2 separate regions of the Homo sapiens genome follow, and region 1 is linked to region 2. A link means that fine-mapping ties the variant in region 2 to the expression of a gene that starts in the linked region. Tissue or cell type: whole blood. Region 2 holds a variant in brackets; the other region holds the start of a gene. All regions are shown on one strand. Distances are from middle to middle.

Region 1 (2,500 bases), 86 kb after region 2:
TCTGTAACCGTGCAGCACTCTTACCTTCTTGAACCAACAAAATCAGCCTATCTCCGACCTCAAAGTAGGGCAGCAGTAAGGAGGTGGGAATAAACATTTGAAAATGAATATTTCCACTAACTAGTAAATGTGGCCAAAATACTATTGAAAATACCATTCAAAATGCATGAATTTTAGCTCAGTTTTTATATAGTTCTGAAGAAGTACCAATACTATTTTGGCATTTCGTAGCACCAACCACGTCCGAAGCGCTCCAACTTTCAAGTCTGAGCTTGTCTCTGAAGAAGTTGCCCGTGCAGCCTCCATGAATACCACACACCAAATACTAACTGCTTTTTAACAGATCCAGCAACGCTGCTGTTTCCATTTTCTCCATCCTATTTATGCCCACATGAACTTTTTTCTTATTAGATAATTAGTAACTTGAAGGCAGAGACCTGTTTTACAGGCTGCAAACCCCAGGGACCGAGACAGCACTTAACGCCTACAAGGTCCAAACCGACGCCAACGATTAAGCGCACAAAGGAAAGGTGTAATATACATCATTTCGTTTAGTCCTCCCTGCAGCCTCATGTAGTAGTTACTATTAATCAACCCCATTTCACAGGTGATCAAAGGTAAGCTCAGAAAGGTGAAGTTGCCTGCCCAGGTCACAAGGTAGGACCAGGATTCCAAGCCTGATCGGTCTGGATACGAACGCTCTACCCACGCGGCTTTCCCCCTACACTCTCGGGATCACCACACACTTCCCCTTGGCTTTTACACCGGAGGCTCGACCTGGGTCCCGGAACCAGCGAAGCCACTGGGCAAGCCTAGAGGCCTCTACAGAGGCTAGAGACGCCTCGCCCCACCAGATGCATTAGGATGAAACGCGCCGAACCGAAGGTTTAGAGCGCCAGGGGAGAAGAGGGGCGGGGAGAGCAGGCTCTTTGACCCAGAGGAGGGAGGATCTCCACACCCGGCCACTCTGGCGCTGGGGCGCAACACTGAGGCCGGCGGGAAGCCGAGCCTGCCCGCGAAGAGACTGGGGATTCCGAGGCGGCTCCTGGGAGACCGGACGCGCGCGGCCTCCGCCGCTCCCAGTCCCGCCAGACCCGATGCCGGGCTGGAGAAGCGCGGGGGCCGACGCACCTCGGATAGGCGGGGGCAGGGGCAGGGGCAGCTCTCCTTTACCCTAGAGCGGCGACAGAAGCTCTTCGGGGGATCAGTGGCCAAGGGGGCGGACAGATTTGCACGGCGGATTCCTCCGAAGCAACCCGTGTGAAAGAAGCCAAGCGGCGGCTGCAGCCCGGGCCGCGATGGGGGTGACACCGCCCGTGGTCCCGCCCCTTCCCGTGGCCCCTCGGAGCCACTTCCGGCGGCAGCGTCCGGGCTAGTTCCCGGCGCGAGCGGCCGCGGGCCAGTTTCTATCTCCTCATCCAGGGCTTGCGGGCGAGGCCTGTTTTAAGTCTCCAGTAACCGAGCGGAGGCCCGGCAGGCGCGACCCGGGCTGCGTACGTCAGAGCTGCCTCCGAAGTGGTAAAATGTGCTGCGAGAAGTGGAGCCGCGTGGCGGAAATGTTTCTCTTCATTGAGGAGCGGGAGGATTGTAAGATACTGTGCCTTTGCTCCAGGGCATTTGTGGAGTAAGTAGAAAAGAGAATCTCTTCATGTTCTAGCACAGTCATTACCCAGAAATGTAGGTATTGCAAACGTGGTTGTAATTGATCCCTGAAAGCAGCCAGAACATCTGACCCTTGGGCACGGTGATGTTTAAGAAAAACAAAACCCTCAGACATGACGGAGTGGTCGCCCACTGCCATTATTTTTATGTGAAGGACTACATCTACTTGGTAGGCTGCTATGAAAAAATGTCGTAGGTGCTATATGTCATCTCATATTTGTAAATCGAGGGGACATTTAAAAATTGGGGGAAAGCGACATGTAAAATGAAATCTCTAGTAGATATGATGTCATAAAGTGAAAGTTTAAAGTTGAGTGACTTGCTTTGGTTAACGTCTTTTTTTAAACCTAAAAATCTACTTAAGCCCAAATGCACATAATTAAAACTTCAAACTAGTTGAGATAAAAGACTTAACCATATTTACATCAGTTTTTGTGATATCTTTATTTTGGGGAAATCTTTGAATCAGGTAAAAATTGCCCCACATGAAAAATAGCTAGTATGCAGGAATAATACCGCCAAGAGACTTGAATTCTAGGAATTGTTTCCTTTATATTAAATGCGTGAGTTAAACCACTTGAACCTTTTTTTCATCTCTATAACGGGTATATTTAATCTCACATGCTTATTTTGTTAGAGTTAAATCCTTGTGGAAGTGAATTTTATGTGATAGACTTTTAATATAGTTTAATATAGTAGGATTTAAGTTTGAAGGAATTCATTTTTCTCGTGTAATTTTGTGGAGTAATTTGAAAACGCAAAAAGAAGTTAAACTTGTTAAATTTAATGTAAAAAGTATTGTCGCCTTTTTAGTCAGGCATGCATGTAGTCATACAAT
Region 2 (2,852 bases):
GAGATCAGCTCTTTGCTAGCAAGTTGTTCAACCTCTTTGAGCTTCAAGTTCCTTCTGTGTTTACAGAACACTTAGGGTGAGGATTAAAAGGCATAACACATAAAGCACCTAGCAATGAGCCTAGCATACGTCAGGTGCTTAACGAATGTTAGTTTTCTTCCCCCAGACTCTAAAAAGGGTAGAACCTGCAAGTGGAAATCAGGTGACTTGGGAAATAGAGAGAAGCAGGATACAGGGGCTTGAAATCAGGTTGGGGCAAATAACATTCAAAGGAAATCTCTACTGGCAGGATGAAGGGGCCATACCAACCCTTTTACTAACAGCTTGGAGTGAGCTCAAGAGGACATGTGCATATGAATCTTTAGATGAACCAAAACTTTAAGAAACATCACAATCAAAAGCAAGATGTTAAAATAAATACATAAATTATATTCAAGAAAAGAAATTTCAGCATGTTGGACGGTAAGAGTCAGAGAGATCACTACAGCTTGAAATGATAGGGTGAAAAAGAATATAAAACATAACCCAGAAAAAGTGAAGTGCTTAATATAGGTCCAACAGTTAAGCTGCACATTCTCGCACACATATACACACACACGGAAGTGAATAATAATAGCTGAAATGTACTGAGTACCAAGTGCTTCTCATGAGCCTGGCCCTGCACTTTGTGCTTTGTGCATCATGCAGCTAGATAGCATAAAGCACTAAATCCTTTACATCAGGGGTCCTCAGTCCCCATTCGCTGGCCTGATAGGAACTGGCTGCACAGCAGGAGATAAGCAGCGGGCTCCACCACCTGAGCTCCGCCTCCTGTCAGATCAGCAGCGGCATTAGATTCTCGTAGCAGCTCGAACCCTATCGTGAACTGCGCATGCAAGGGATCGGGGTTGTGTCTCCTTATAAGAATCTAATGCCTGATGATCTGAATGATCTGAGGTGGAACAGTTTTATCCCAAGACCATCCCCCACTCCTCCCACCACAAACAGCCCCCCAGTCTGTGGAAAAACTGTCTTCCACAAAACTGGTCCCTGGTGCCAGAAAGGTTGGGGACTGTTGCTTTACATAGATGACTTCATTAATCCTCTCAGCAAATCTGAAACAGGAACTTTTATTACCCTTGCTTTTCATAGAAGTGACCTGTGGCTTGGAGGGTAAGTCATTCTGCCCAAGGTCACACAACTTGGAGGAGGTGAAGCTAGGAAACTATCTGGGAACCTTGAAATGCAAAGCTCACACACACAATCACCACACCATGCTACCACCATCATGTCAGAGGGAAAGAAAACTAATACATAACAACTAAATGTTATACCATTTGATAGCCACATTAGTCAGGACATGTGTAATTAAAAAAAAAAAAACAACCTTCAATCCAAAAAGGTTTAAACAAGACAGAAATGCATTGGCTCACATAGCTAGAAGTCAGGGTATAAAAAGGCCTAGAGGGTTGACTTATCTCTAGGCCTTATCTAGACTCAGTAGGTTCAAATCCCAATGGCCTTATCTCTATTTCCCTGAAATCTCTCTGCCTGGCCTCCTGTGGTAATGCAAGCTTCATCCCAC[G/A]TTGGGGATGACATGTCCACAGCGGATCCAGGGCTCACATCCACGTGCAATAAATCCAGAGAAAGAAAGGGTCATTTCCAGGAGTTCACCCAGAAAAGGGAGGAAAAGCTTTCCTAGAAGGGTCCAGCCCAGCTCTACTTCCATCTCCTGGGCCAAAATTATTTGTTAATGAGTCAAAGGCACAAGATCGCCTTTTGATCAATCAGGCCACCCTTGGAATTGCAAGTGGAGCCAGCATTTCTTGAGACACACAGGGTTCCTGGAGAAGGGGCAAATACCTGCAAAAAAGTAGGGTTTGTTAGGAAGAAGAAAAGAAAAGAATGACTCTGGGTTAGACAATCAACAATATCTAGTACAATTCTCAGAGAAATGAAATCTCATTCCCCTTTTGCAGGTGACCTACGGGTTTAAAACGGTTCTTGTGAAAAGATCTGAGATTCTTTTTTTTTTTTTTTTGAGATGGCATCTCGCTCTATCCCCCAGACTAGAGTGCACTGGCATGATCTCAGCTCACTGCAACCTTCACCTCTCAGGTTCCAGCGATTCTCCCGCCTCAGCCTCCTGAGTAGCTGGGATTACAGGTGCCCAAAACCACACCTGGCTAATTTTTTGTATTTTTAGTAAAGATGGGGTTTCACCATGTTGGCCAGGCTGGCCTCGAACTCCTGACCTCGTATGATCTGCCCACTTCAGCCTCCCAAAATGCAGGGATTACAGGAGTGAGCCACTGTGCCTGGCCTAAGAGCTGGAATTTTTATCTTGACTATAGACTTCATATGAGCCAATTGTGTCAGGTGATTAGTGCAATCTTGAGTTCATTAAAAAGAACAGCCAGGTCAAGAAAAGACATAGAGTTATTGTATTCAGTACCAGTCCAGTCATATTGGGACTATGGTATCAACTCCAGATACTGCATTTTAAGAGGACTGTCAAACACAGATCATAGAAGAGGTGGAAGTATAACATAGTCATAAGTGGCCAGACACGGTGGCTCACGCCTGTAATCCCGGCACTTTTGGAAGCTGAGGTGGGTGAATCACCTGAGGTCAGGAGTTCGAGACCAGCCTGAACAACATGGAGAAACCCCATCTCTACTAAAAATACAAAGTTAGCCGGGCACGGTGGCACACGCCTGTAGTCCCAGCTACTCAGGAGGCCGAGGTAGGAGAATCGCTTGAACCTGGAAGTCAGAGGTTGTGGTGAGCCGAGATCACGCCATTGCACTCCAGCCTGAACAACAAGAGCCAAATTCCATCTCAAAACAAACAAACAAAAAACACATAGTCAT

The links. PIP is the estimated chance that this variant, and not a neighbour inherited with it, causes the effect.
Region 1: it holds the start of TGS1, and the variant in region 2 is fine-mapped to the expression of TGS1 in whole blood (GTEx, PIP above 0.99).

The regions. Positions count from the first base shown.
Region 1 is chr8:55,772,096-55,774,595 of GRCh38, forward strand. It overlaps TGS1 (trimethylguanosine synthase 1), which reads left to right and starts at 1,351. Exons shown (of 13, transcript NM_024831.8): 1 at 1,351-1,624. The coding sequence starts at 1,524. It overlaps TMEM68 (transmembrane protein 68), which reads right to left and starts at 1,283. Exons shown (of 8, transcript NM_001286657.2): 1 at 1,174-1,283. RefSeq lists enhancers at 185-688, 1,460-1,789 and silencers at 910-1,039, 1,130-1,319.
Region 2 is chr8:55,685,594-55,688,445 of GRCh38, forward strand. No RefSeq gene overlaps it. Among named protein-coding and RNA genes, the nearest start is that of TMEM68, 86 kb to the right of the region's middle. The variant G/A (reference allele first, on the strand shown) is at 1,565.